7 linked regions of the Homo sapiens genome follow. The gene in region 3 interacts genetically with the main gene of each other region. Each region holds a gene or a part of one and is shown on either strand. Other genes may lie near its edges.

What was found.
Region 1: changes in EP300 (region 3) and MAN1B1 together harm fitness less than expected from each alone (positive genetic interaction), as found in Homo sapiens cells (one large-scale study listed by BioGRID).
Region 2: changes in EP300 (region 3) and CTBP1 together harm fitness less than expected from each alone (positive genetic interaction), as found in Homo sapiens cells (one large-scale study listed by BioGRID).
Region 4: changes in EP300 (region 3) and RAB1A together harm fitness more than expected from each alone (negative genetic interaction), as found in Homo sapiens cells (one large-scale study listed by BioGRID).
Region 5: changes in EP300 (region 3) and TBL1XR1 together harm fitness less than expected from each alone (positive genetic interaction), as found in Homo sapiens cells (one large-scale study listed by BioGRID).
Region 6: changes in EP300 (region 3) and SLC39A3 together harm fitness less than expected from each alone (positive genetic interaction), as found in Homo sapiens cells (one large-scale study listed by BioGRID).
Region 7: changes in EP300 (region 3) and RABGEF1 together harm fitness less than expected from each alone (positive genetic interaction), as found in Homo sapiens cells (one large-scale study listed by BioGRID).

What each region holds. Positions count from the first base shown.
Region 1 is NC_000009.12:137,102,958-137,106,875, reverse strand, and holds part of MAN1B1 (endoplasmic reticulum mannosyl-oligosaccharide 1,2-alpha-mannosidase), read right to left. Parts: coding exon of another isoform or gene 2,511-3,918; exon of another isoform or gene 1,900-2,510; intron 752-1,899; coding exon 561-751; intron 188-560; coding exon 67-187; intron 1-66. Other genes in the region: uncharacterized protein LOC124902313, read right to left, coding at 2,666-3,918. UniProt on the Homo sapiens protein: Involved in glycoprotein quality control targeting of misfolded glycoproteins for degradation.
Region 2 is NC_000004.12:1,224,525-1,229,093, forward strand, and holds part of CTBP1 (C-terminal-binding protein 1), read right to left. Parts: intron 3,820-4,569; coding exon 3,675-3,819; intron 1,043-3,674; coding exon 836-1,042; intron 1-835. UniProt on the Homo sapiens protein: Corepressor targeting diverse transcription regulators such as GLIS2 or BCL6. Has dehydrogenase activity. Involved in controlling the equilibrium between tubular and stacked structures in the Golgi complex.
Region 3 is NC_000022.11:41,171,523-41,176,091, forward strand, and holds part of EP300 (histone acetyltransferase p300), read left to right. Parts: intron 1-976; coding exon 977-1,141; intron 1,142-2,100; coding exon 2,101-2,262; intron 2,263-4,569. UniProt on the Homo sapiens protein: Functions as a histone acetyltransferase and regulates transcription via chromatin remodeling. Acetylates all four core histones in nucleosomes. Histone acetylation gives an epigenetic tag for transcriptional activation.
Region 4 is NC_000002.12:65,119,563-65,124,131, forward strand, and holds part of RAB1A (ras-related protein Rab-1A), read right to left. Parts: intron 1-4,569. UniProt on the Homo sapiens protein: The small GTPases Rab are key regulators of intracellular membrane trafficking, from the formation of transport vesicles to their fusion with membranes.
Region 5 is NC_000003.12:177,189,924-177,194,492, reverse strand, and holds part of TBL1XR1 (F-box-like/WD repeat-containing protein TBL1XR1), read left to right. Parts: intron 1-4,569. UniProt on the Homo sapiens protein: F-box-like protein involved in the recruitment of the ubiquitin/19S proteasome complex to nuclear receptor-regulated transcription units. Plays an essential role in transcription activation mediated by nuclear receptors.
Region 6 is NC_000019.10:2,733,985-2,737,550, reverse strand, and holds part of SLC39A3 (zinc transporter ZIP3), read left to right. Parts: intron 1-171; 5' UTR 172-293; coding exon 294-503; coding exon of another isoform or gene 504-611; exon of another isoform or gene 612-3,025; intron 3,026-3,566. UniProt on the Homo sapiens protein: Transporter for the divalent cation Zn(2+). Mediates the influx of Zn(2+) into cells from extracellular space. Controls Zn(2+) accumulation into dentate gyrus granule cells in the hippocampus.
Region 7 is NC_000007.14:66,795,886-66,800,454, forward strand, and holds part of RABGEF1 (rab5 GDP/GTP exchange factor), read left to right. Parts: intron 1-732; exon of another isoform or gene 733-848; intron 849-890; coding exon of another isoform or gene 891-1,007; intron 1,008-1,488; coding exon 1,489-1,621; intron 1,622-3,437; coding exon 3,438-3,529; intron 3,530-4,324; exon of another isoform or gene 4,325-4,372; intron 4,373-4,569. UniProt on the Homo sapiens protein: Rab effector protein acting as linker between gamma-adaptin, RAB4A or RAB5A. Involved in endocytic membrane fusion and membrane trafficking of recycling endosomes. Stimulates nucleotide exchange on RAB5A. Can act as a ubiquitin ligase.

The sequences.
Region 1 (3,918 bases), on a different chromosome or scaffold from region 3:
GACTCAGGCACCTTGGAAGCCAAGGTAAAAGGGGCGGCGGCCGGAAGGCCCCGCAGACACACTCACCATCTTGGCACTGAAGCGGCCGTGGGCAAGCTCCCCCACAAAGGTGAGCTTACTGGGCTCGGAGTGCCGCAGCAGGTGCGTTCTGACACCCTCGATGGCTTCCACGTAGTCTTCCAGCAGCCTGTGGACACCAGCAGTCATCTCACTCTACCAGGACGGTGCATCGGCTCCCGTGGGGCACCAGGGACAGGCACATCCTGGGCCCACACAAGTACAGCAGGCCTGGCCCTTGCCGGACAGAAGGTGCCACCCTGCACAGCCCATGGCCCTCAGTGAAGATGCCCCCCTCACCCCCCCAGAGGCCACGGTGAGAGGTGAATGAATACGCCCTCCACATAAATGCCTGGGCCAGGCCTGGCACGGCTGCGGTTTCCTGACACACAGTGTGGCGGGGGGCAGCAGGAGCGGGGGCCGTGGGAGCTGGGGGCAGCAGGAGTGGGGGGCTGCGGGAACGGGGGAGCCGCGGGAGCTGGGGGCAGCGGGCCGGGCCTCACTGTGTCTCCTGCTTCCCGCCCTGGATCCACTGCTTCAGCAGGTACTCATAGTAGCTGTCGGCCCTGGCGCCCAGCGTGAATACGCCCAGGTGGGTGAAGAGGCCACTGTGGGTATTGATGAACATGGGCACCAGCCCATCCTTCTTCCCAGACAGGCCGTGGATGTGCTGTGTCACCTTCTCCACTGCCTCCTGCGGCAGAAAGGGGGATGGTGGGTTTACTGGCCAGGGCCGAGCTGCAGGGTGAGCTGTAGAGGGGCTCTGTGAGCTCTGCCTCCCCTCGCCCCAGCACCGACTGACTCCCAGCAGAGAGAGCTCTGTGCCCAGCCCACAGCTGTCCTTGCCCACATGGCTCCTGGTGGCCGTACCACACAGCCACACAGCCACCAGTGCAACGCACCTGAATGTCACTGCTCCCAACGGGTGGTCACCACAGAGCTGACCCATCTTCAGGATGGCTCTCATCCCTTACTCGAAGGGACAGCATCTGACAACCACAGGCACTGTCCTCACGAGAGCCCACCAGGCCTGGCCGTCAGCCATGGCTCTGGAGGGACGGCAAGTGTGCCTGCCTTCTGAGCCCAGTGTTGCTCCTGATGATATTAAACGCCTCGGCTCCACGCCCTCCTGGTGAGCTCCTACTCATCCTCCAAGTCACAGCCACCCTCAGCTCCTCAGGGCTTACGCCCAGCTGGCAGCACCAGGCGTCCTGGCCCACAGAGGGGCACAGGGTACCGGGATGTTAGGGCACGCCCAGCAAGGGCGCTCCGGGTCTCTACCCAACGCAGACACCCAAACCCATGCCCAGCACCTTCGAGGCCTGGCTGCCTATCCCTGTGTACCGGCAGCAACCAGAGGCCCTGGTGACATGGGGGTGCCCATGGGGGCCTGGGGCCATTTTCTGAGCTGCAGTGAAAACGCCTTCTAAATGTCTGCATGGGAGCCTCACGTGGATGGCGTGTGGGAGCCTCACGTGGATGGTGTGGGCTGCACTTCTCACCACAAGTGGTCACAGTTGCTCTAAAGAGGGCTGTGTCCAGCTCATGATTAAAAACAGGGACTCGAACATGAGGCCAAATACATGAGCAACAATAAACTGACCAGCTGTGCTTCATGAAAATGACAATCTGTTATCTATCAAAATACACCATTAACAAAGTAAAAAGAGGCCGGGCACAGTGGCTCACACCTGTAATCCCAGCACTTTGGGAGGCCAGTGGGTGGATCACCTGAGGTCAGTTCCAGACCATCCTGGCCAACATGGCAAAACCCCATCTCTACTAAAAATACAAAAAAATAACGGGGTGTGGTGGTGGGTGTGGTCCCAGCTACTCGGGAGGCTGAGGCAGGAGAATCGCTTGAACCCGGGAGGTGGAGGTTGCAGTGAGCCGAGATCGCGCCACAGCCTCAGGCAGGTGTGTGCACCCACACTCACAACACCCAAAACACAGCCTCAGGCAGGTGTGTGCACCCACACTCACAACACCCAAAACACAGCCTCAGGCAGGTGTGTGCACCCGCACTCACAACAAAGCAGAGCCTCAGGCAGGTGTGTGCACCCACACTCACAACGGCCAAAACACAGCCTCAGGCAGGCGTGTGCACCCGCGCTTACAGCAACCAAAACAGCACAGTCCTGGTGTCCACCAGAGGAGAGAGGATTAAACAAAAAGTGGCCTAGCCACGCAGCAGATATTCAGCCTGAAAAAGGAATCTCTGAAGCATCTTTCGCGTATGAAGCTTAAAGACGCTGAGTGAAAGGAGCCCAAATAAAAGGATAAATCAGCCGGGTGTGGTAGCTCACGCCTGTCATCCCAGCACTGTGGGAGGCCCAGGCGGGTGGATCACGAGGTCAGGAGTTTGAGACCAGTCTGGCCAACTTGGTGAAACCCTGTCTCTAATAAAAACACAAAAATTAGCTGGGCGTGGTGGCAGGCGCCTGTAATCCCAGCTACTTGGGAGGCTGAGGCAGGAGAATCACTTGAACCTGGGAGTGGAGGTTGCAGTGAGCTGAGATCACGCCACTGCACTCCAGCCTGAGTGACAGAATGAGACTCTGTCTCAACAAACGAAAACAAAAAAAGGACAAATCGTGTGTGACTGCACTCACACGAGGAACTCCACACAATGAGGTCCAGGAAGAAAAACCTGAACAGTGTTTTTCAGGGACTGGGGAGGGACATGAAGGGTCACTGTGTGATGGGAGAGCTTCAGTTTTAAGATGAAAAGGGCTCTGGAGATGGAAGTGATAGCTGCACAACAGCATGAATGTGTGTAACACCACTGACCTGTACTCCTGCAACAGCGTGAATGTAACACCACCGACCTGCATGCCTGCAACAGCATGAATGTGCAACACCACCGACCTGCACGCCTGCAACAGCATGAATGTGTAACACTACCGACCTGCATGCCTGCAACAGCATGAATGTGTGTAACACCACTGACCTGCACGCCTGCAAGTGTGAATGTGTGTAACACCACCGACCTGCAAGCCTGCAACAGTGTGAATGTGTGTAACACCAACCTGCACACCTGCAACAGTGTGAATGTAACACCACCGACCTGCACGCCTGCAACAGCATGTGTGTAACACCACGGACCTGCACGCCTGCAACAGTGTGAATGTGTGTAACACCACCGACCTGCACGCCTGCAAGTGTGAATGTGTGTAACACCGACCTGCACGCCTGCAACAGCATGAATGTGTGTAACACCACCGACCCGCACGCCTGCAAGTGTGAATGTGTGTAACACCAACCTGCACGCCTGCAACAGCGTGAATGTAACACCACCGGCCTGCACGCCTGCAATAGCGTGAATGTGTGTACCACTGACCTGCACGCCTGCAACAGCGTTGTGTGTAACACCACCGACCTGCATGCCTGCACCAGCGTGAATGTAACACCACCGACCTGCACGCCTGCAACAGCATGAATGTAACACCACTGACCTGCACGTCTGCAACAGCGTGAAAATGTGTAACACCACCGACCTGCACGCCTGCAACAGCATGAATGTACCACCGACCTGCACGCCTGCAACAGCATGTGTGTAACACCGACCTGCACGCCTGCAACACCATGAATGTGTGTAACACCACCGACCTGCACGCCTGCAACAGTGTGAATGTGTGTACCACCGACCTGCACGCCTGCAACAGTGTGAATGTAACACCACCGACCTGCACGCCTGCAACAGCATGTGTGTAACACCACCGACCTGCACGCCTGCAAGTGTGAATGTGTGTAACACCAACCTGCACGCCTGCAACAGTGTGAATGTAACACCACCGACCTGCACGCCTGCAACAGTATGAATGTAAGACCACCGACCTGCACGCCTGCAAAAGCGTGAAT
Region 2 (4,569 bases), on a different chromosome or scaffold from region 3:
GTGTGACATCCGTGCAGGCCCGTGAGGCCCACGTGTGTGCTGTGACATCCGTGTGTGATGTCTGTGTGTGCCACGATGTCTTGTGTGAGGCCTGTATGTGTGCTGTGGTGTTGTGTGTGACATCTGTGCAGGCCCTGTGTGCTGTGACGTCCGTGCAGGCCAGTGTGAGACCCATGGGTGTGTTGTGATATCTGTGTGAGGCTGTGTGCTGTGACATCTGTGTTATCTGTGTGTGCCCGTGAGGTCCACGTCTGTGCTGTGATGTCCATGTGTGATTTCTGTGTGCGCCCGTGAGGTCATGTATACTGTGATGTCTGTGAGGCCCACATGTGTGCTGTGGCATCTATGACATCCGTGCAGGCCAGTATGTGTACTGTGACATCGGTGTGTGATGTCTGTGTGTGCCATGATGTCTGTGTGAGGCCCACATGTGTGCTCTGATTTCTGTGTGAGGCTGTGTACTGTGACATCCGTGTGTTATCTATGTGCCCATGAAGCCCATGTGAGTGCTGTGACGTCCGTGTGTGTTATCTGCATGTGCCCATGAGACCCACGTGCTGTGATGTCTGTGTGAGGCTGTGTGTGCTGTGGCATCCGTGTACGTTATCTGTGTGTGCCTGTGTGAGACCCACGTGTGCTGTGACGTCCGTGCACGTAGGGCACACGCCTGGGACTCCCGGGCCCTGGTGCCTGTGCGCACTCAGTCCTGTCCTGGGTTGGGACCGACACCTGCAGCAGCCCCACCCCGCCCCGGGCCTCTCCTCCTGGGCACAGCTGAAGAGCGGCAGCGCCAGACACAGGGAGGGACACAGGCGTGGAGCTGCGGCCGACGCACCAAGTCCGATGATGCCCAAGGTCTCCCCGCGGATCCTGGCAGCGCCGGACGCCACCTCGCGGATCTGCTCGACGCTCTGGACTCGTGTGCCCTCCCGCAGCGCCTGGTGCAGCCAGGTGGCCCGCCGGTACAGGTTCAGGATGTGGCACAGCGTCGAGTCGGCCGTCTCCTCCACAGACGCCGCGGGCACGTTGCAGACGGCAATGCCTGTGGGGACAAGGACACGGCGGTCACCCCCGGGCCGGGCCCAGCCTCCGGGAGGACACCGGGGCCGCCGTGACTGGAGCGGGTTTGAAGCTTCCCAAGGAAGAAGCCAAAGGCCGTGTCCCCAAGGCCACCCCGGGAGGCCACGAGATGAACACGTTGCTCACAGGTCGGGCGCAACAGAGCAACTCCAGGAGCCCCACCTCCACTTTAGGTTCACGTGGCAGCACACACACGGCAACTGCTCGGTGTGTGGTAGGGCTGGGGTGTGAGACGCTGCCCTGACCCCTCCCGACTCAGCGCTGGCAGCCCAGGAAGAGACAAGCACGTGTCTCCCCGCGTCACCTCGCCACCCCGATTCCTCTCGGGGGTACCCTGCTGGGAGGCTGTGGCCAGGTCAGAATCTGGGTGCCGGCCCCGCCTGCACACCCCTACGTGGACATCCGCACATGTCCTCAGGCCTCCCCCAGGCCCAGCCGGGCCCCGAAGCCCCTTCCGCCCTCCATGCCCCACCCCTGCAGTCGGTAACACTGAAGCTGGAGCCATTCCTGGAAAGCAAGTCCATCCCATTTCTCCCGAGTGGCCAGGCACGCCCATGTGTGACCCCTACTCCCCGCTCCCGGCCTTGTCCCCAGAGACAGGCCCTTCCCCAGCCAGTGCCCCTCCCTGAGCCTATTTACCCTCATCCCTGGCTTGTCCCTGGCCAGGGCCGCCCCTGCACGGCACTTCCCACCCCATCCGGATGATTGCATTCCTGTGTCCGACTGGCCATCCGTCTCCCTGGGGAGGAGGAGGGGGCAGGAGGCCAGGACAGGGCTGCATTCATAGGCCCGGAAGCTGGACAGGACCGTGTGGTTCCGCAAGGGGTCCCGGGGGCCGGGAGAGGGCCTGATGTGGGGCGGCGCAGGCAGGGGCTGCATAGCCCCTAGACACAACTCACTTGGACGTAAAAATGTTAAACAAGGGAGACTGAGGGAGAGCCAAGCCAGGCGCCACACGAGATTGGAACAAAGACCTCCTGAGGGTGGGCCAGATCCCAGGGGTGCCCCAGACCATCCCTGGCTGAAGAACAGAGCCCAGGCCTGGGAAACTCCACGGGTAACAGAGATGGTAAACAGCAGGGACCCCTCAAAAAGCACCAGGCATGCACCCGACACCACACACCCAGGCCTGCACCCGACACCGCAGCCGGCCCTTCCTGGGACGCCACCACAGAGACAAAGGCGGGAGGAGGCTGGCACACAGGTTTGGCCCATGGGCGCCGGCGGAAGCAGCTGAAGCCAGTGCAGGAGACCCCCAGATGGAGGCATGGCTTCCGACACCACCTGCGTCCCCCGCAGGAACACAGACGGTTCCAACTTTGCAATGCCATAAACTGTATCCTAGGAAAAGGGAAGCAAAACCGTGAGGCGCTGGCCAACTGTGGGCAAGGGCAGGGTACAACCTCGCCTGTTACCAGCATCGAGAGGAGGAGAAAAAACAGACCGAGCCTGGCAGAAAACAGAAAGTGCGCTCCAAGCAGGACGGCCAAGCACCGCCCCAAGTTTGTTCTAATGAGTGTCTGTACATGGATGCAGACACATGTGCATGTTCCATGTGCGTGTAGGTGCACGGGTGCAGACGTGCGTGTTCCATGAGTGTTCCATATGCTGAGTGCACAAGCAGAGGTGCATGTGTTCTGTGTGATGAGCATGTGATCCATGTGCTGAGTGCGTGTGCACAGGTGCAGATGAGTGTGCGTGATCCGTGTGCTGAGTGCATGTGCACGGGTGCAGATGAGTGTGTGTGTTCCATGTGCTGAGTGCACATGCACGGCTGCAGATGTGCGTGTTCTGTGTGTGTTCTGTGTGCTGAGTGTGCGTGATCCGTGTGCTGAGTGCGTGTGCACGGGTGCAGATGAGTGTGCAGGATCCGTGTGCTGAGTGCATGTGCACGGGTGCAGATGAGTGTGCGTGTTCCATGTGCTGAGTGCACATGCATGGCTGCAGATGTGCGTGTTCTGTGTGCTGAGTGTGCGTGATCCGTGTGCTGAGTGCATGTGCACGGGTGCAGATGAGTGTGCAAGATCCGTGTGCTAACTGCATGTGCATGGGTGCAGATGAGTGTGCGTGTTCCATGTGCTGAGTGCACATGCACGGATGCAGATGTGCGTGTTCCGTGTGTGTTCTGTGTGCTGAGTGTGCGTGATCCATGTGCTGAGTGCACAGGTGCAGACGTGTGTGTTCTGTGTGCTGAGTGCACACGTACTGGGTTGCAACACGCTGCTGTTCCCGCTGTGTCTCGGGACAGAGACCTATGAGCCCTATTACAGCCATACACTGACGGCCCTGCCCTCACCCCCAGGGTCCCAGTACCCAAGCAAGGGGCACCAGCCAGACATGCATGCAGACCTGTGTGAAGCCACAGCTGGATTTCCTGCTGCCCAAAAGAGAGGAAGTGCCCTGAGATGAGGCTCTGTGAGGAACTGAATGGCTGCAACCTCATGCCGGCCCCAGACGGGACCACGAACCACCGCCAGCCACACCAGGCAATGTGCAACGGGGTCCTCAGTGTGGCAGTGAAGCCTCCATGGACGAAGCAAGACGGGACGGAGCTTGCATGAATGGGCACAGGAGAGAACTCGGAGCCGGCCTACCTAAATCCCCGGCCGACTTGATGTCGATGTTGTCAAAACCACTGCCAATCCGGACGATGATGCGGAGGGCTTTGAACTTCTCCAGGTCCTCCCTGGTGAGAGTGATGGTGTGGTACATCAGGGCCCCCACAGCCTCGTTCAGGACCTGCAGCGAGAAAGCACACAGGCTCAGCCCGGAACCTGAAGACCCTCGGGCTTGGCCTTCGGGGGTGGGGCTGCCCCGGCTGGGAAATTAGCCTGTGGCCCTCAGGCTTGTTCCCCAAGCACCAGCCCGGACACTGGGAGAGGCTACATGAAGGCTTCCCCGCCACGCGCGGCCCCTCAACCTCTGCCCAGGCGTCCTGAGTCCCAGCAATTCCCACCGCAGCCTCCTCAGCCGCATGTAGGCTGCAGGCCGGCACTGGTCAGAGTTGCCCGCTCCCCACTGTGGTGGCTGAGATGTCTCCTTTTGAGCGTGCGCCCCACCGAGACTCTGCTCAGCCTTGTGGAAGAAACGGGGTCCCGCCTGGCGAGGACACAGGAGGGGGGGTGCGGCCACACCCAGGAAGGACACTGAGCAGGTGCAGCTGGGTGGGGTGGCCAGGGAACCTGAGACCTGCAGGCCCGGGGATGCAGGTAGAAAGTGGTAAGTCCCCGCGGCACACAAGCACGTCGGCGGAGGCAGGCAGACGCCACCCAGCCGTAAGGATACATCCACAGGAGCATGCACTGCCCCCGTGTCGCCCAAGAACCTGCCCAGAAATGCTGCCCCTGGCTGGCGAGGCTTGGGTCTGAGCAGTGTTCACAACAGTCACGTTTTTAATTTCAGTGTCCATGACAACTCTTAGACCGGAACAGCTCCCGCGAACAAAGACCTGGCACACAGCACAGCAGCCCAACCCTGGCGCCTCCACTC
Region 3 (4,569 bases):
GACAGGATGTCACCATGTTGCCCAGGCTGGTCTCAAACTCCTGAGCTCAAGTGATCTGCCCACCTCAGCCTCCCAAAGTGCTAGGATTATAGGCATGAGCCACATCACCCAGCCAAAAATATATTCTCCCTTTTTTTTTTTTGGACGGAGTTTCAGGCTGGAGTGCAATGGTGCAGTCTCCTGGGTTCAAGTGATGGTCCTACCTCAGCCTCCCGAGTAGCTGGGATTACAGGCATGCACCACCAAGCCAGGCTAATTTTTTCTATTTTTAGTAGAGACGGGGTTTCTCCACATTGGTCAGGCTGGTCTCGAACTCCTGACCTCAGGTGATCCACCTGCCTCGGCCTCCCAAAGTGCTGGGATTACAGGTGTGAGTCACTGCACCTGGCCAAAAATATATTCTTAATTAACAGTATTATGTTATTCATAAATATAGGTTGTCTCATGATACAGACTTGTCTTCCTCAATTTAGTAGTTCAACTAAATAAAGAAGTTTTCCTAAGCAGCCCAGCAAATCATTCTGCAGCAGATACTATTTCCAGTATTTGTAGTTTTGGTCATTTTGAACAAAGCTGTCAGTAAAAGCTGCTGAAATTCCAAGGATGGGTGTGAGGAGGGCATGCTTCATACCACATATTCTGTGATAAGGAGTGGTAGGGGCCATGGCATGCATGATGGTGCTACCACCCTGACGTTGATCCTGGCAGGATAATTGCCACTTGGTTATATAAAGGCAGATAAGCTCCCTGTTTTTGTGGGTAGAAGAAATAGAAAACCGGAAATATTGACTTTAGGCCAGGCCTTTTCACTATTTATTTTTCTAAATACTCCCTGGCTTACGGCTTAGGTATAAAGTCTCTGCCAGCTTTCAAGACATTTTAAGCTTTCATGTTTCTTGTCAGCCATGATTATTCTGTATAATCAATGCTTTAAAAGAACATAGAAATTCCTATATGTACATGCATGTTTTCACAGGATATTTTTAAACAAGCTACTGAAGATAGATTAACAAGTGCAAAGGAATTGCCTTATTTCGAGGGTGATTTCTGGCCCAATGTTCTGGAAGAAAGCATTAAGGAACTGGAACAGGAGGAAGAAGAGAGAAAACGAGAGGAAAACACCAGCAATGAAAGCACAGATGTAAGGGCATTGAGTTTCCTTTGAAACTTCTATCATGATTCTAATATTTAATCCAGAAGTGCACTTAAACTTTCAATTGGGTTTTAAAGCTTTCAGGTGTAAAAGAGCTCTTTAAGTTGGACAAGAAATATTGGCTTAGAGAGGTTATTAGGGTTCTGTTTCAGTGGTATTAAACTTTTAAAGCATCAGAGCCCCTTTTAAAATGGCATCTCAGACTTTGAGTAATGTGAAATGATAAAAGAAACTGAAGGAAATCCTGAAAAACTGATAGAAGATTACTTATCTGAAGGACTAGGTTATGAATATTATAGGCCTTGTGGGTCACATATCTCTGGCATATTTTCTGTCTTTTAAAAACACACTCTTTTTAAATGTAAAAAACCATTCTTAGCTATACAAAATAGGCCTGAGCCAGAATTTAAGTTACTAAGCCTGGCTTAGTAACCTCACCAGTTATTTCCCCATAGCATATCTCGAATTACCTCCATTGAATTTAACTTAACAAAAGGCACCCTTAAATAGTCTGTTAACAAACTCTTACAGCCTTGTCATTTAGTATTTGTAGGCTCATAACATTTTAGAATATGAGTGGAAGGAAATAAAACCAAGGTCTTCTGGCTCCCCACTTTGATACACTCTTCACTACCCCAAAGTGCCACCCCTTCCTTGTTCCCTAGCCCCAATCTGGGATACATTCAATCAATCTACAGGGTCTGCACATTCTGTGGCCTCTTCTAGGCAAAAAGCTAAAGGGCTGCCATTGCCTTAAAGATCACTGGGAGAAAATTAGGTCAAATAACAACTTTAAGGAGAAAGAATAAGTGAAGAGAACAGCTAGTAAAATAAGTTACAGGCATAAGATTATGATATCTAGTTTCAAAGAAGGGAGATATTCTGTGCTATTCCCAAATTACTTAACAAAAACCTTATTTTCTTGTCTCCTTTGTGCTACTCTGCAGGTGACCAAGGGAGACAGCAAAAATGCTAAAAAGAAGAATAATAAGAAAACCAGCAAAAATAAGAGCAGCCTGAGTAGGGGCAACAAGAAGAAACCCGGGATGCCCAATGTATCTAACGACCTCTCACAGAAACTATATGCCACCATGGAGAAGCATAAAGAGGTAAGATGCAGCCACCCAGAGTTGGGGAAAAACGGCAAGATTTCTGGCCAGGCATGGTGGCTCACACCTGTAATCCCAGCACTTTGGGAGGCCAAGGCGGGTGGATCACCTGAGGTCAGGAGTTCAAGACCAGCCTGACCAACACGGTGAAACCTTGCTCTACTAAAAATACAAAATTAGCTGGGCATGGTGGCACATGCCTGTAATCCCAGCTACTCAGGAGGCTGAGGCAGGAGAATTGCTTGAACCTGAGAAGCGGAGATTGCAGTGAGCCGAGGTCACTCCATTGCACTCCAGCCTGGGCAACAAGAGCGAAACTCCACCTCAGAAAAAGAAATAAGAAATGAATAAAAACACTGACTGTTCGCTGGGCGTGGTGGCTCATGCCTGTAATCCCAGCACTTTGGAGGTTGAGGCAGGCGGATCACTTGAGGTCAGGAGTTGGAGACCAGCCTGGCCAACATGGCGAACCGAAACCCCGTCTCTACTAAAAATACAAAAATTAGCCTGGCGTGGTGGCACACACCTGTAATCCTTGGGATGCTGGGGTGGGAGGATCACTTGAACCTGGGAGGCAGAGGTTGCAGTGCACTTACAGCCTGGGTGACAGAACGAGACTCTGTTTCAAAAAATAAAAAGATTTAACCTTTCTGAAAGTGAATTAGTAAATAGAATTGGAGAAAAGTTAAACTTCCACATATGGACTTACAACCCCCTTCTCAAAACTTTTTGAGTTATTTCATCATTTACATTGTTTAGTTGTTCTTGCAGTCATTTGGGAAAATAACTGGGTAAGGTTTTTTTTTTCTCTCTTTAATATCATATAATTGATAACGAAAGCCAGGAGAATTGAAGAGTAATTCCTCTCAGGGTTTGTCCAATGGTAGTAATCTCGATTGTTCAGTCAGACTCCTCATTTTACTATCTCGGTTCTCAGACATATAATCAAGTTCTTATAGGAAGTGGTAATTAAGTTGAGAGGGAAATGAAGGCTTGATTTCAGGTTGTAATTCCGTACCTAAAAATTGGTTAAACAGTCTCTTTGGGAGAGAAATAGTTAACAAAATCTTTTTTAGAGAGGAATTTGTTATAATGATGTTATCATGGTGAACACCTATATACATAGGTGTTCAAAGTATCTTTTCCCCCACTGCTCCCCCCATCACCACCCCTTTTTTGTTAGCCTAGAATAATGGGCTACGATGTAATAATGGTAATAACCATTATCTCAGCCATGCTAGTGAAATGGAAGGATTCCTGAGTTCTAATACGTTAGGTAATGATTATTAACAATTAATAGTTACTAGCTATTTCAAGCAGTAAGTAATGCCACAGAATCCTAGGCAGTTGGGAAAAGCCCTTAGAATATATTGTAATAGGTTTGACTTAAATTGTGGACACATTCCATGGCTGTTTAAATTTAGGTTGTAAATCCAAGTATTGGCCTGGTTGTAGGGTGACAGAAGCAGCGAACATTGCTGGCCAGAGACTGTGAGTGTGGCTGCCAGTGTGCACAGATGTTGAATAATCTGTTATCAGTACAGCAGTTTCTCACAAGTTCCTAATTTCTTAAGGGGATGTTTTACATTTTATTACTTTAATAGGTGTTTATAGTTATATACTAATTAATGTCAAATACATATGTAATACCAGCTTTTTATACCTTTTACACTAATGGTTATGAGAATTGATGGTTGTTACAAGTTTTTTCAAACTTCAATGAACAAGAATTTTATTGCTTTGTCAACAAAGACTAAGATTTTTTATCCATTCCATTCCCTTCCAAACCTGTAGGAAAAGTTACACAGGAAAGTTGCATAGGGGACCTTCATGAGTCCAGGCCAGTTGTTTTTCATACTGTCTCCATATTTGGATTTGTCTGGTTTGTTGTAATTAGATTGAGGTTAAACCATGGATTGCATCTTAAAGTAGACTGCCTTGAGGCAAAATGTCCACTGTGCATGGTGCTATACCTCACCCAGACCATTGTTACTCTGAAGGAGTTACTGAATGAAGGAGAAAAAAATCACAGGATGTGCATTTCAGTTCTATTTATAGTCAGTCTCAAGAGACCAAAGAGGTAAAGCAGGAAAAGGAACAGGAGGCGTATGGTGGTGAAACTAACTCAGCATTCGCCAGTCTCATTGGTGCTCAGCCTGCTGTACCTGCTCACACCTGTAATCCCAGCACTCTGGGAGGCTGAGGCAGGCAGATCACTTGAGCTTAGGAGTTTGAGACCAGCCTGGGCAACATGGCGAAGCCTCGTCTCTACAAAAAATGCAGAAATTAGCCAGGTGTGGTGGTGTG
Region 4 (4,569 bases), on a different chromosome or scaffold from region 3:
AAAAAAACAAAAAAACAAAAACAAAAAAAAACAAAAAAACCCTATCAGAATGAATCAAATCATATATAAACTAGCACCCAGAACCTGACCAAATACAAAGAAAAGTGTGATTCACTGCTTAAATTAAATTAGAACACTTGTGTTAGTAGAGAATAAGCTCAGCCTGGCGCAGTGGCTCACAGCTGTAATCCTAGCACTTTGGGAGGCTAAGGTAGGAGGACTGCTTGAGCCAAGGAGCCAGAGACAAGCCTGGGTAACATGGGGAGATCCTGTCTCTACAAAAAAAAAAAAAAAAAAAAAAAAATTAATTAATTAAAAAATAAAAATAAAAAAGAGAGTAAGTTAGCTCGGCTCAAAAAAGCCTGGTGAAGATGCCTAATTTGGAGTTCAGATTTCACTAGCTTTAGTAAGTAAGAAATCCAACTGCTCTTCATCAGGCAGATGCTAACCACCAATCTACACATAAAGCACTACATAATTATCCACATTATATATTTCACAAAATTGTTTCAAATGGCCTTTTATAAATTTAGCTATTTGACTATTTTTATAAATTTCATCTAACCCACTTTAAGACTAACATCTTAAACTCCACATTTTAAAACTCAAATTAGGCCGGGAACAGTGGCTCACACCTGTAATCCCAGCACTTTGGGAGGCCGAGGCGGGAGGATCACAAGATCAGGAGTTTGAGACCAGCCTGGCCAATAAGGTGAAACTCCGTCTTTACTATAAATACAAAAAATTAGCTGGGCGTGGTGGCGCAGCCTGTAATCCCAGCAACTTCAGAGGCTGAGGCAGGAGAATCACTTGAACCTGGGAGGTGGAGGTTGCAGTGAGCCAAGATCACACCACTACACTCCAGCCTGGGGGACAAAGCGACACCTTGTCTCAAAAAAAAAAAAAAAAAAAAAAAAACTCAAATGAGTTTGGGATACCAGATTTAAAGCTAAGCTTTGTCACTCTCAGATTTTCACATTTTAATATTGATAATGATAGTTAACATTCTCTTTTCTGTTTTCAATCTCCTAAATCAAGTATTCTTAATCTGAGGTTCATGAACAGCCTTGGTGTGAACTGCCTATAACTTTATGCAAAATGTTATATGAGTATATAGACACAAAGGGAGCAGATGCATCAAATGTAACGTGAGTATGGCTACACGACCATAAATGGGTTAAATGTAACAGTCCCAAATCAAGATACCAGAAAATATCTATAAGGAGAGTAGAAAGGACAAAGAGTAATTCCACTTAAGTACTATTATTATACAAAGGAAATACATTCAGAGAAATTAAATCCATCATTGTTCTTGGAAAACATGAATTACATAATTCACTGAGTTTCACTGTTGAAGATCACTAGTTTGAGACGCAGACTGCACAAAATGCCCTATGTAAAGACCATAGATGGCCAAGTGAGGTGGGTCACACCTGTAATCCCAACACTTTGAGAGGCTCAGGCAGGAGGATCACTTGAGCCCAGGTGTTCGAGACCAGCATAGGCAACATAGCGACATCTCATCTCTTAAAAAAAAATTAGCCAGGCATGGTGCCAGTTACTCAGGAGGCTGAGACAGGAGGATCACTAGAGTACAGGAGGTTGAGACTGCAGTGAGCCATGACTGTGCTACCACCACTCCAGCCTGGGAGACAGAGCTAGATCATGTCTCGAAAAAAAAAAAAAAAAAAACCATAGCCACGTGGCTGGCACCGAGTAAGTGCTAAATAGCACCTAGTATTATTAAAAAGTGATGTTTCCAAAAGAATGGTCCCTCTTGTGAATAAAGGCATGCATATTTAACACTACTTGTCCTAATTAGGAAATCTACAAGCATAGAACACAGTAAACTTAACTGGAACCTATCACAACCTTGGATTTAATAAAGCAGTGTAGGGTGTTCCAGCCAATTGAGCCAACCTGTCACAGAAGTACCAAGGAAAACTATTTCCTACTTCTTCTGTACCCTATCTCTCACATGTTTCAGTCAGCCAACAAACTAACACTTAGTTCTCTGGCTCCTCAGGACCATTTTTCCCCTGAATATCATTCCACCATTACCCTATTAATAATCTGCAACACTCCCAGGGTGGTTCCAAAGAAAGGCCAAGACCTAAATTTTCTTCCCTAAATTACATTCCAGATATCAAAGCAGTAATCTCAGCCCCACCTTCTATAGGGAAACAAAGGAATAGTCTAATTGCTCCCCTCTCCCTCTAAAGCGGGGGCCGGGGGGGAGTCTGGGCATTTTGCCTAATTCTCAAAGGAAAATTCCAAAATGTAGTGGCGACAAAGTGGTAAAAAGCTGATAAGCAGCCAAACGTAGTGGCTCACGCCTGTAATCCTAGCACTTTGGGAGACCAAGGCAGGCGGATCACCTGAGGTCAGGAGTTGGAGACCAGCCTGGCCAACATGGTGAAACCCCATCTCTACTAATATAAAAATTAGCTGGCCGTGGTGGTGGACGCCTGTAGTCCCAGTTACTCAGGAGGCTGAGGCAGAAGAAATGCTGGAACCCGGGAGACAGACGTTGCAGTAAGCCAAGATTGTGCCACTGCACTCCAGCCTGGGTGACAGAGCAAGACTCTATCTCAAAAAAAAAAAAAAAAAAAAAAAAAAAAAAGCTGGTAAGCTACACATTTAAAATACCTCATGCACTGGCACACTACACCCATTTTCAGTTTTTCTTCATCTTAAGACACTCAGCCAAGCGTGGGGCTCATGCCTATAATCCCAGCACTTTGGGAAGCTGAGGCAGGTGGATCTCGAGACCAGGAATTTGAGACTAGCCTGGGGCAACATATTGAAATCCCATCCCTACAAAAAATACAAAAAAAAAAAAAAAATTAGCCAGGTGTGGTGGCACGCGCTTGTATTCTCAGCTACTCAGGAGGCTGAGGTGGGAGGATCACTGAAACCCGGCTAGGAGTTGGAGGCTATAGTAAGTTATGATTGCATCACTGCACTGTAGCCTGCGTGACAGAGTAAGACCCTATATCTCAAAAAACAGACACTCAAAGTTGATTAGCAAATTTTTTTTAAATCTCAAAACGTTAAGAAGCATCTTATTTTACCCTAAACATGTTCATATATTAGGAAAGTATATAGCTTGCCACAAAAGAAAGCTATTCTGGCCAGACGTGGTGGCTCACGCCTGTAATCTCAGCACTTTGAGAGGCAGAGGCAGGTGGATCACAAGGTCAGGAGATCATCCTGGCTAACACAGTGAAACCCCATCTCTACTAAAAAATGCAAAAATTTAGCTGGGCCTGGCGGCGGGCACCTGTAGTCCCAGCTAATCGGGAGGCTGAGGCAGGAGAATGGTGTGAGCCCAGGAGGCAGAGCTTGCAGTGAGCCCAGATCACACCACTGCACTCCAGCCTGGGCAACAGAACAAGACTCCGTCTCAGACAAAAAAAAAAAAAAAAAAAAAGCAAGCTCTTCTTTACTATCCAAAATAAAACTGAACTATTCAAACTACAAATAGTGAAACCATCACATAGGTATAGTCAAAACTACCCAGAAGAGAAAACACACACATACACAACACACAGCCAACAGATTGCTATGGAAGGTGAATATAGCAGGATGTTAGCACATACGTAAATTTTTTTTTTTTTTTTTTTGAGACAGAGTCTCGCTCTGTCGCCCAGGCTGGAGTGCAGTGGCGCGATCTCGGCTCACTGCAAGCTCTGCCTCCCGGGTTCAAATGATTCTCCTGCCTCAGCCTCCCAAGTAGCTGGGACTACAGGCGCCTGCCACCACGCCCAGCTAATTTTTTGTATTTTTAGTAGATGGGGTTTCACCGTGTTAGCCAGGATGGTCTCGATCTCCTGACCTCGTGATTCGCCCACCTCGGCCTCCCAAAGTGCTGGGATTACAGGGCACATACATAAATTATTAAGATTGCTTCCAGAATTAAAAAGACCAAGATACCTGAGAAATAAAATTACTCAGAAAGCAAAATTCCCTTTAAAAGCCAAGTAGAAGCCAGGCGCGTGGCTCACACAAGTAATCCCAGCAATTTGGCTGAGGTGGGTGGATCACGAGGTCAGGAGTTTGAGGCCAGCCTGGCCAACATAGTGAAACCCTGTCTCTACTAAAACTACAAAAATTAGCCGGGTGTGGTGGCACACACCTGTACTCCCAGCTACTTGAGAGGCTGAGGTGGAAGAATCACTTAAACCTGGAAGGCGGAGGTTGCAGTGAGCCGAGATCACGCCAACGCACTCCAGTGACAAAGTGAGACTCTGTCTCAAAAAGAAAAAAAAAGAAGCCAAGTAGAGAACTGGCAAGGAAGATTTGATTTTGAAGCACTTCCATCTTTAAGACAACGTTAAAAAAAAAAACTAAACTAAAATATTTGATGGTTAAAAACTGTCTAACATCCCTCATTTTAACTTAATTTGATTAAAGGGGGAAATTTTTATTTTTTATTTTTTTGAGACAGAATCTCACTCTGTCACCCAGGCTGGAGTGCAGTGGCCAATCTTGGCTCACGGCAACCTCTTTTTCCCAGATTCAAGCGATTCTCTTGTCTCAGCCTCCTCAGTAGCTTGGGACTACAAG
Region 5 (4,569 bases), on a different chromosome or scaffold from region 3:
TAATTTGTTGGGTTTGTTCAATTTTTGGTGTCATTTATATAAAAAGAATAAAGAAGAATGTGAATGGTAGGAAGTCAGGGGAGAGGCATGGCAGAAACATTGGTATTCACTAGAACTTGTATTTTTCTAGTGCATGTGAATTGGACTCATTTCACAAATAACATTTACAGTATAAGTCACTGAAATGCAAAAAAGGAAAGCAGCTAACACGAGACATTTATACTTTATGCTCAGACATTCTGGTAGTAGAGGAGGGCTAGGACCCTAGAGCTGTGTAGTAAAGAATTGTTGAGTATCGTTCAGTTTAGGTACCACGAAGGTGGTATCTCCTGCTCTGCCACCAATAGAAACTTGAAGTTAAAAAGAAAAGACTCTGAGAGCGCTGATGCTGGAGAGATTTGGCTGTTTACCCCTCTGGGATTGGATTCGGTAAGAGTGCAATTAATTGCCCTGTAACCATAGAGCCAGAGGAGAGGGACTAGGTGCTCCGGGCTATGCTCTAGGAGGTGTGAGGTGCTTTCTATGCTGTTTATACCCTAGGCTAATCCTATGAGGTAGATAGTGTTGGGCTTTTTTTGTGGATGATGAAACAGAGATGCAAAGAAGTTAATTCCCTTGTTCAAGGCCACAAAATTATTAAATGAACACTAGGATTCAAACCTGGGTCTGTCTTAGATGACTGAATCTGCGGAATTTTCCCAGCTGTTTTGTTAGTCTTGATCCGTGTAGATCATCCTTCCAAAAACTTGTGTTTCTAATCAAGTTTATGATCTATAGTTGAGCGTCTGTACTAAATGGGTCGAGTGATTACATGGGTAAATGAAATTGATAGAACTCATATCATTGTGCTGAATTCCCTAGCACCATTTAATAAGATGCAGTCTTGCTGGGTGCAGTGGCTCACGCCTGTAATCCAAGCACTTTGGAAGGCCAAGGCGGGCGGATCACGAGGTCAAGAGATTGAGACCATCTTGGCCAGCATGGTGAATCCCCGTCTCTACTAAAAATACACAAATTAGCTGGGCGTGGTGGCGGGTACCTGTAGTCCCAGCTACTCGGGAGGCTGAGGTGGGAGAATCGCTTGAACCCAGGAGGTGGAGGTTGCAGTGAGCCAAGATCGCGCCATTGCACTCCAGCCTGGGCGATAGAGGGAGACACCCTCTCAAAAACAAACAAACAAAAAATTTGTGTAAGAAAAATCATTGAAGTCTTTGTGTTGTAGCATAGTGGTTAAAGTGAGTTCAAACTCAGGCTCTATCCTTTACTAGCTGTGATGTTGGGGTAGTAGCTCCTCATACGTTTTATTTATTTTTTAAAATTTTATTTTATTTTATTTTTTTGAGACGGAGTTTCGCTCTGTTGCCCAGGCTGGAGTGCAGTGGCGCGATCTCGGCTCACTGCAACCTCCGCCTCCTGGGTTCAAGTGATTCTCCTGCCTCAGCCTCCCAAGTAGCTGGGATTACAGGTGCTTGCCACCACTCCCGGCTAATTTTTGTGTTTTTAGTAGAGATGGGGTTTCAGCATGTTGGCCAGGCTGGTCTCGAACTCCTGACCTCAGGTAACGTGCCTGCCTCGGCCTCCCAAAGGGCTGGGATTATAGGCATGAGCCACATTGCGCCTGGCCCTAATGTGTTTGTTTCTTCATCAGTGTAAGGGGACAGTCAACTTTCATAGAGTTAAGAAGATCCAGTTAGTGTGTGAGAGGTACTTAGAACAATGGTTGACATTCTAAGCATCCTGTAAGTGTAAGTTGCTCCTGATAGGTTTGATTTTTGAAGTTTGTTTCTTTGTATTACATTTTATTTGCTTGTTATTTATTTTAGTAGGGGCATAATGTCATAGGAAGGATTTGATAGCTCCATTTCCTAAGTAACCCATTTGAAGTAAACTTAGCTTGGTTTTTTTTACTCTTAAAAAGTTGTGGTTTAAGGCTTACATATACTATGAATAATTTACATGATTGGTGTAGGTACGGTGGTGGATCTTTTTTGCATGCCTTTGTTGCTATTCTGTCATCTGGGTTGGACTTCTTAAGCCTACTTGCACCATTTGAAACATTTTTCAACTTACTTTCTTTCTTTTTTTTTTTTTTTTGAGATAAAGTCTCACTTTGTTTGTTGCCCAGGTTGGAGTGCAGGTTGGAGTGCAATGGCGCGATCTCCTCTTACTGCAACCTCGCGCCTCCTGGGTTCAAGCGATTCTCCTGCCTCAGCCTCCTAGCTGGGATTATAGGCATGCGCCACCACGCCCAGCTAATTTTTGTATTTTTAGTAGAGACGGGGTTTCACCATGTGGTCTCCATCTCTTGACCTTGTGATCTGCCCGCTTTGGCCTCCCAAAGTGCTGGGATTACAGGCGTGAGCCACCGCGCCCAGCTTCAACTCTTTTTTTTTTTTTTTTGAGACAGAGTCTTGCTCTGTCACCCATGCTGGAGTGCAATGGTGCGATCTCGGCTCACTGCAACCTCTGCCTCCCGGGTTCAAGCGATTCCCCTACCTCAGCCTCCCAAGTAGCTGGGATTACAGGCGCCTGTCACTTGCCTGGCTAATTTCTTGTATCTTTAGTAGAGATGGGGTTTCACCATGTTGGTCAGGCTGGTCTCGAACTCCTGACCGCCCGTCTCGGCCTCCCAAAGTGCTGGGATTACAGGCATGAGCCACCGTGCCAGGCAAACTCTTTAAATACAAAGGGAACTCTTTCAAGGTTTGGGTCCAGCAGAACCTAGGGTCTGCCTTTTAGGCTGTAGTGATTACTTTGGGTAGGTGGTTTTATTTTATTTTTCCTGACCACTTTTTATCTGTGTATTCTTTTCCGTATTATCAGATGCTGTCTAGATAGTTGTCCTTAGAAGTTCAGTTCCTCTATGAGCCTTATCTTATGTTCACTTCCCATTTTTAACCATACTTAATTTAGCACTAGTGTTCACTTTGCTAATAGTCAAAAGTTCTATGTATCAGGACTATACAGGTGCTTTGACAAGTACTGTGACAGTCTGAGTGCTGATGCCTGAATTTAACAGTGAGAAAATTGAGGCTCAGGTAGTAGGGGACAGAGCAGGAATTTAGGCCCAGTTTGTGTGAATTCTAGGCCAGTGTTGTTACCTAGCAGTCTGTCTTCTCAATGAATGAATGGTTGTAGGTCTGGATTATTAAGTTTTTATTTGGTTGCCCTGAGCAACCTTTCTTATTCATTTTATCTTCTGTAACTACTGACAGTGTAATTTATTTAAAGTACTGGTTTCATCTTGTCAGTTCCCCTGCTGGAGAACCCATAATGGATTCTCTTTGCCAACTGGATTGAATTTGTATGCTTCAGTCTGGCTTTTAAGAAGGTTCCATTCTACCTATTCAGCTTTATTTCTCACTCTTAGTTGGGATTCTTGCCGGCCTCTCAAATACGGTAGTTTTTGCCATACTCACTACTTTGCTTTTGTGCATGCTGTTGTTCCCTTTGTCCTTCTTATAGCCTAGTTTCAGTCCCCCTTCTTCCATGAATCCTTTTCTGGCCATCCTGACTCAGGATATTTCTTCTCTGAGATTCCATTGCACTTAATGAAGATCACAAATCCCATAACTGTTTATTGTTTTGTTGCCCCAACTACGATGTTTCTTGAACGGATGGACCTTTTTCCTTCCAGCATTTGGCAGAGTTCTTAATACCATTTTCATGTTAAAATGGATTGTGAGGGCCTGTGTTAAAATGGGAGCAGTGACAGCCCTGTTCCACTGTAATGTGGCAGCATCTTCTTTTTGAGTTAGACCTTAAAGATTTAGGTGTGCTATAGTCACATTTAACTGTTCATTTAAATTTTAGTGCTGCCAGAGTTGCAAAGGAAGAAAAATTTGTTAGTTTCTTAGATGAAAATGGATGGTTTTGACTGGGTACGGTGGCCCACGCCTGTAATCTCTGCACTTTGGGAGGCCCAGGCAGGGGGATCACCTGAGGTCAGGAGTTTGAGACCAGCCTGGCTAACATGATAAAATGTTTAGCTCTACTAAAAATACAAAAAATTAGCTGGGAGTGGTGGCACACGCCTATAATCCTAGCTACTCAGGAGGCTGAGGCAGGAGAATAGCTTCAACCCGGGAGGCGGAGGCTGCAGTGAACTGAGATTGCGCCACTGCACTCCAGCCTGGTCAACAAGAGCATCAACTCCGTCACATACACAAAAAAAGAAAATGGATGGTTTTGCCCTTTTAATTCTGGAATAGTAGCCACAGTACTGGGGGAAAACCTAGTCTAGTTAGGAATTGTGTCACAGTAAGTTGACTTTATCTGGTTATATATGTGTCAGGTAGTTAGGTATAATGATGCTTAAGATTTTGGACTCTTTTTTTTTTTTTTTTTTTTTTTTTTTTTGAGATGGAGTTTCACTCTTGTTGCCCGGGCTGGAGTGCAATGGCACATGCTTGGCTCACTGAAACCTCCGTCTCCTGGGTTCAAGCGATTTTCCTGCTTCAGCCTCCCCAGTAGCTGGGATTACAGGTGTCCGCTTACACGCCCAGCTAGAACTTTATTTTCTTAATCTGTTAGGTTTTTTCTTCATTATTTCCTTAGTAGTGTACCTAA
Region 6 (3,566 bases), on a different chromosome or scaffold from region 3:
GTCTGTAATCCCAGCTACTAGGCAGGAGAATTGCTTGAATCCAGGAAGCGGAGGTTGCAGTGAGCGGAGATTGCACCATTGCACTCCAGCCTGGCAACAGAGCGAGACTCTGTCTAAAAAAAAAAAAAGAAAAAAGAAAGAAAGCTAATGCAGTGCCCCTGATGTTCACAGTTGCTGGACTGAGACATGAGCCTCCAACTGTGTGGTTGGGCTCGGTAGCACATCGTGGGACTTGGGTGTGCGCCCACAGATGGTTTGGCCCTGCAGTGACCAGAGCAGCCCAAGCCGCCACCATGGTGAAATTGCTAGTGGCCAAAATCCTGTGCATGGTGGGCGTGTTCTTCTTCATGCTGCTCGGCTCCCTGCTCCCCGTGAAGATCATCGAGACAGATTTTGAGAAGGCCCATCGCTCGAAAAAGATCCTCTCTCTCTGCAACACCTTTGGAGGAGGGGTGTTTCTGGCCACGTGCTTCAACGCTCTGCTGCCCGCTGTGAGGGAAAAGGTAAGGGCTCCCTGGGCACTAGCAGCAGCCCTTGGCACCTTATGGCCAAGGGACTCTGATGCATTTTCAACACTGATGCCAAGTTCAGTGAAGGCCTTGATGCTGTAAGGGTGACGGAAAGTAGGAAGTGAATTTGCTGTGTGATTGTGAACTGGTTACTTTCTGTCTCTGTGCTCTACCGGCCAAACAAGGGGTTTGGACCAGACCTGGGATTCCCAACAGGTGGACTTGTCGGTTGTCACCTGATAATCAGACCAGACTACCCACCTAGGTAGGGCACACTCTGTCCTGAAGCTGGAAAGCATGGCCTCTCTTCGGTTCCTATATCAGTCAGCTACTGTTGCGTAACAAATTATAGCAAACTGAGCACCTTAGGACTACAGACGTTTATCATCTCACAGTTTCTGTGAGTCAGGGGTCTGGGCACTGCTTCAGGAGCTCACAAGGCAGCAGTCACAGTGTCTCCTGGGCTGTGGTCTCATCTCAACGTTCAACCGGGGATGGGTCGGCCTCTAAGCTCATGTGGTTGTAAGCCAGGTTCAGTTCCTCATTGGTTGTCAGACCGAAGGTGTCTGTTTGTCAGTGTCTGTTGGCTGGGGCAGCCCTCAGAGCCTGGCCACGTGGACCTCCCCAGCATGATCAGTTCCTTCATCAGCAAATGGAGAAGATGGCCATGACTCTGTGTAAGACAGAGGGCACAGTCCCATGTCATGCAGAGGTGACAGGGTATCCCTTCCCCTCTGCCCCAGTGTCCTGCTGGTTAGAAGCAAGTTCAAGTCCTTCCCATACTCAAGTGGCCAGGACCTCACAGGGTATGGCTGTCAAGAGGCAGGGGCTTCTGGGGCCATCTTGGAGTCTGTCCACCCCAACTCCTGACAGCATCATCCTCTGCTGACCTGTTCCTTGAGCTCCCCCATATCAGCAGCCCAGAGTGTGGGTCCCCTGTCAGGCCACAGTGTGACCAGCCCTGGCCATGCTTGCTGGGTGACCCTGGGTGAGTGGCTTCCTCTCTCTGGGCCAGTGCCAGATGTGACATTGAATTTGTGTTGGTTACATACTTGGTGGAGATATGAGGACCCCCTGTTCTTCCTCCCAACGAAAGCATGGAAGCCCTAAGCTTATCCCCCAACCCCTGGCCCTGCTTTTCCTCGTGCCTAGTGTCCAGAAAGGAGGAGAAGGGCTGTTGTCTGGGATTAAATCATCTGAGCCTGTTAGTGTGGCAGAGTAGAGTTCCAGGGTGGCTCCCTGAGCTTCCAGCCCCTGCTCCGCACGCCCCATGCTCTTCCCTCCCCTCGAGTGTGGGTAGGGCTGGGACTGCCGTGCGTGTCACTCCTGCCATTATGTCAGAATCCCAGCAGAGGGGATGTTGCAGCTGTGATGACCGCCCCAGATCGGTTAGCGCTGAGTTCATCAAAAGGGAGGGGGTGGGCCTGGCCTAATCAGGTGAGCCACTCACCCTCCTGCTGGCCTTGGAGAAGCAAAAAGCCAGGGTGTGCCAGGAGAAGGGCATGAAGCGAGGACCCGAGGGCAGCCTCTCGGTGCCAAGAGCCATCCCCGCCAACAGCCAGCCAGGACACGGGGCCTCAGTCCACAGCCACCAGGAGGTGGACTCTTCCGACCTCCAGTGAGCTTGGAAGAGGACCCTGGGTGTCAGTGAGATCTCAGCCCTGATGACACCCTGCGAGACCTGGAGCGTAGGGCCCAGCTAGCCCGCACCTGGATTTCCACCGTTCAGAGCCGAGACACCGCATTCCTGCTGTTCCGCGTGGCTGAGTCTGCATTCGTTCGTTACGCGGTGTGTGAAGACTGACATCTGCACTGCGAGGATGGAGATCTTGGTCATCTCTGACATCTCCTGCATCGCAGAGGCCACTGCCAGCCCCCCTTTTCCCCCATGGTCATGGTGTCACCCCCGTCACCCTCTGACTGCAGGCCTGGGCGACTGCGGGGAGCTTGCTCTTCCCTCCCCCTCATCACAGTGGCCTTCTCATGGCACCCAAACCTTTCCCGCCGTTCTCCTGTCCTCGGGCTGGTCAGGCGGATGAGGTCCCTACTCCCGAGCCCCCAGCCTCACCCACTGCAGGGCCAGGCTCTCAGTCACCCCTGGAAAATGGTGCCTGGTTCACAGCTCCCGTGCATCTGCCTCATCTCTCCTGATCAACGTCTGTCTCTTGGGAGTAGCTAGAGTTCCTCATGAGCTTGTCCTCAAGCGAGGCATGCATGAGGCCTCCAGCCGGTGGTCAGTGAGGGAGTTAAGTGGCTTCTCCGTGGAAACACAGCCTTCTGCTGCAGCAGAGGCTCACCCAGCGTGAACTGCCCCCAGGGAACACTGGGCGATGCCTGGGGACATTGTGGTTGTCACGATGGGGGGTGCTCCTGGCCTGGAGTGGGTGGAGGCCAGAGACACTGCTCAGCAGCACCCTGCAGTGCCCAGGACGGCCCCGTCCCAGAGAACAATCCAGCCCCGAATGTCAGCACCTTCCCCCTACCCGAGTTGTGAAAATAAAAAATGTTTCCAGACATTGCCAGGTGTCCACACGGGCAGAATCGCCCTGGTTGAGAACCACTGTGTGCGCGTGCTTGTGTGTGCACCTGCGTGTGCGCGTGTGTGTGCGTGCGTGTGTGCACATATGCGTGTGTGTGTGTGTGTGTGCACGTGCGCAGGTTGTAATGAAGTCTCCGCTGGGAAGGAAGCAGGGAAGCAGGCATTGTTGAGTGTCGATTGTGTTGTGATTTTCCTCCACTTTGGTCTCGAGGTCTCTCTGGAGGGTGGCTGTGAACTCTGGCCCTGCCGTGACGAGGCTCCAGGGAGCTGTTGTGGGCGTTTACAGCCTGCCTTTCATGAGACATTTCATCCTGGCGCATAGCCTAATGCCTGCGTGTCCGCCCCGTGAGCAGCTGTCCCTCCCATAGGAGTGTGTACCTCTTGCAGACGCCCTGCGGCTCCCGTCTGACCCACGTCTAGTTTCTCCCCACCAAAGTCTCCCCTCGCTAGGAGAGCCCTGACCAGGAGGAGAGTCGGGCCCAGGCATGTCGGTCAGGGAAGCAGAGAGGAGGCCCCGC
Region 7 (4,569 bases), on a different chromosome or scaffold from region 3:
CCCAGCACTTTGGGAGGCTAAAGCAGGCGGATCACGTTAGGCCAGGAGTTCGAGACCAGCCTGGCCAACATGGTGAAACCCCGCCTCTATTAAAAATACAAAAAGTAGCCGGGTGTTGTGGTGCACCTCTTATCCCAGCTACTCGGGAGGCCGAGGCACAAGAATTGCTTGAACCCGGAAGGCGGAGGTTGCAGTGAGCTGAGACTGTGCCACTGCACTCCAGCCTGGGCAACAGATCGAGACTCTGTCTTCAAAAAAGAGAGAGAGAAAGAGAAAAACTTATTGGAAGGCTTTGCTAAATGAATTTTCCATCTTGGAATCACCATTTTGGTGAGTTATTGTATTAATAGTTTAAAAAAAAAAGAGCTTCAAGTTTTTAGGGATTCTTTATGGATTCAACCTTCACTGATACTAGACTTTAGGATATACTTAGCACATGTGTGTGTCAGAGAAATCTCCATTTGTATACCTCAGAGAGCTCTACGATGTTATGGTAAACCTCAGAAAAATGAAAGGATAAGTTTCATCAGCATTCATCAGTCTTGGGAGTTGCAAATGCCTTTGTAATGTAGGACAGGGAGTGACCTTGCTGAAGTCTCCCCATTTGGCAGGGTGTACACTGTTAGGTCCTGTCAGACAACTTCAGTTAGAACTGAGGTTGCTGTGGAAGGCAGCCCAACAGTTGGAAGAAGATTTTTTTGTTTGTTTGTTTGTTTGTTTTTGTCGAGACAGAATATCACTCTGTCGTCCAAGCTGGAGTACAGTGGTGTGACCTCGGCTCACTGCAACTCTGCCTCCCAGGTTCAAGTGATTCTCCTGTCTCAGCCCCCGAGTGGCTGGGATTACAGGTGCGTGCCACCACACCCAGCTAATTTTTGTATTTTTATTAGAGAGGAGATTTCACCATGTTGGCCAGGCTGGTCTTGAACTCCTGACCTCAGGCGATCCACCTGCCTCAGCCTCCCAAAGTGCTGGGAATACAGGAGTAGAGCCACCGCACCCAGCTGGTAAGTTTTTTTTTTAAGCGTATTTTTAAATATAACATTCTTATACTTTTGTTCTGAGTGTGTTTAATTTATTTCTAGTAAATTAGTTTTTTGCTGTGTAGACAGTGCTATGAAAATATACTCTTGGCCGGGCATTCTGGCTCACACCTATAAACCTAGTACTTTGGGAGGCTGAGGCAGGTAGATTGCTTGAGCCCAGGAGTTCGAGACCAGCCTGGGCAACATGGTAAAACCCCATCTCCACAGAAAAAACCTACAAAAATTATTCAGGCATGGTGGCGTGTGCCTGTGATCCCAGCTACTTGGGAGGCTGAGGTAGGAGAATGGCTCGAGCCCAGGAGGTGGAGGTTTCAGTGAGCCAAGGTCATGCTGCTGCACTCCAACCTGGGCGACAGAGCCAGACTCTTTGTTTGCAAAAAAAAAAAAAAAGAGAGAGAAAAAATATATATATCTTGATCTTTTCTCTGTCTGGTTATTTCAGTGCCTCCAGAAAGAGTCGAGAAGATAATGGATCAGATTGAAAAGTACATCATGACTCGTCTCTATAAATATGTATTCTGTCCAGAAACTACTGATGATGAGAAGAAAGATCTTGCCATTCAAAAGAGAATCAGGTAGTTGCTTATTTTGTTTTGCTTTGTAGTTACTACCTTCTAATGGAAGAACACACTGGGGGGAAAATAATGCACCTGTGTTTCAAACCTTAAGGGAAAGCAATAGCTCATGTTCCTGCTTCCTTAGAGTGGAAGCAGCTCTGTTGTGTAAGAAAGACGAGGAATGTGGTGACCTCACCTATCCATCTCCCTCAAGGCAGCTTTTGGTAAGAGTTGTGTTTGGTGTTTGAGATTGTTTTCAATCCCTGAAATCTCCAAGGAATAGGGGGACTGTGTTCTTGGTCCATTACCATCTCCTCAAGTGGGAAGCTGTGAATATCGGTATCAAGGCAGGGGATGTCGGCTGGGCCCGGTGGCTCATACCTGTAATCCCAGCACTTTGGGAGGATCACTTGAGGCCAGGAGTTCAAGAGTAGCCCAGGCAACGTGGTAAAACCCCGTCTCTACTAAAAATACAAAAATTAGCCAGGCATGGTGGCGCACGCCTGTGATCCCAGCTACTTGGGAGGCTAAGGCACGAGAATGGCTTGAATCCAGGTGGCAGAGGTTGCAGTGAGCTGAGATCATGCTACCACACTCCAGCCTGGGCAACAGAGCAAGACTCCTTCTCAAAAAAATAACAAGTCAGTAGATGTCCTCTTTCCTCATTCCTCCCAGGGGTGTGCATTTTTCAGCATTCCCTAGTCACATCTTTCACTGGCATTGGATTGATGACATTTCCCACAGCACCCAGTCTTCCAGGCTCACTGGGGTGAGCCCCAGCACTGTGTACTCCAGTTGCGGTGGACACTGAGGAAGAGACCACCCAAGTGTGGGAACAGGGCCAAGGCTGAGCTGATGAGGTGTTTTAAGGGGAGAAGGGACTCGGAGTCCCAGGTTCCAGACAAGGGGCTGGTACTTGCTAGATCTGTATTGGAAGTTTCATAGCTGAAGTGAGGAGTTGATACTGGGCAGGCTGAAGATGTGGAGCCCAAGGTCAGGAGCCAGAAGTAACTAGAGGGGCCCTGGACCAAGATGCAGAACAGAAGCAGTAACCAAGCAAGAGGGCAGGCCTGCTGCAGGGTAGTTGGAGTGCAGTTAGGGTGGGACCAGGAAACACACAGTGATTCAGGCATGGTGGTCCTGCCCGTGGCCTCCTATACAAGCTCCAGTGTGCCTCAGAAGTTGAGGGTTGAGGCCAGGTGTGGTGGCTCGCACCTGTAATCCCAGCACTTTGGGAGGCCAAGGCAGGCAGATCACCTGAGGTCAGGAGTTTGAGACCAGCCTGGCCAGCAGGGTGAAACCCTGTCTCGTAAAAGTACAGAAATTAGCTGGGCATGGAGGTGGGCGCCTGTAGTCCCGGCTGCTTGGGAGCCTGAGGCAGGAGAATTGCTTGAACCCAGGATGCAGAGGCTGCAGTGAGCCAAGATTGGCACTCCAGCCTGGGCAAGAGTGAGACTCCATCTCAAAAAAGAAAGAAGTTGAGGACTGAGTGTAAAAGGACATTAACGCAGTAGGCAGCGAGGACAGGCAGCAGCCAATTCTCAAATGGTCACTTTCAGATACTGAGTGCATTTCAGTCTTGGTAGCACTGCGTAATGTCATTTCAGTCAGCAAGATGGCCTTCCATTCTTGTGATAAATGCAGAAGTCTCATTTTAGGATCCTAGCTGCTTCATCACGTCATTAGAGCTCGTAGTACTTGCAGGGGTGATGTGTGTGGGCCTGGGATTGAGTGGTCAGTGATGCCTCAGGCTTTCCCTAAACTGAAGGAGGTGACAAGACAAATGGCCACAGTTTATCCTTGGAGCTCTTGTTTACTGTCTCTCTCTCTTTAGAGCCCTGCGCTGGGTTACGCCTCAGATGCTGTGTGTCCCTGTTAATGAAGACATCCCAGAAGTGTCTGATATGGTGGTGAAGGCGATCACAGGTCAGTGAAACCAAGAGCCTTTTTATTGGGATGTTTTCCCCTTAAAGTTAACATTTTACTGTAATATTCATCTATACATTTGTAAAATGCAGATTGTCGAAGGTACATTGGAATGTAGTAAAAGTGATTTGTAAGATTGTTTTATGAATTTGATGGCATTCAGAAGAGCAGGTTCTCTTTTACCCCTTTATTTTCAGGGATTATGGTCTCGTTTCTTGGGCATTAAACTAAACTAAGGTCAAATGCAGATAGAATAAATTTTTTTTCTTTTTTTTGTACTTCTTTTTTTATTTAGTTTTTATTCAGCTGACTGTTCCATGATAGAATAAATTTCTTAGGATTCAGTTGCATTTATATATTCAAAATAATTTTGGATAGAGGAAGGGAACTGGTAAGGCAAGGTAATCCCCACGCTGGAGTAACGTAGTAAAATGATGCCTCTGACTGGTTGTTAGAGAAGCGCTATGAGTTATTTTTCTGGTTTGATCAGGAAATAAATGAAGTTCCCCAAATTGATGTGACACTGCCGTTCTAGACAGGTCCAGCCTCCTAATAAGGTTTGTTTCTCATTCATGGGAATGAACCAGCAAGAGTGCAACACAAACGTTTAAATTACAAAAAAAAATCTTAATGGAGAGATGGTCATCTTTGGCCAGTGTCTCCTTTATTAGAAAGAGGCCTTGGAAAGGCTTGTTCATGTAGACATTGTTAATGAAATTCTATTGGAAAGGAAGTGGGTTAACTGATATTAGTAGTGTTGGAGGCTGGCCATCGAGTAGGCTCCTTTTGTTACAGGAACCAGAGACTCACCCAAGCTACAGAAGAAATGGAGGTTTGCTTAAGGTATTATCAGGGTTATAAAGGAGGTGGAGTCTTTCAGGACCCTAGCCCCAAGGGTCATCCAGGGAGTGGGCTATCTTACTGCCTCTACAACGGCAAGAGGGTCTGCTCCAGGCATTCTCTGCTGATGTGATTCTTCCACTTTCTCGGGTTCTGCTTCTCTTTATCTTCCCGTGTCAACTCCTGTTGTTAAGTAAATT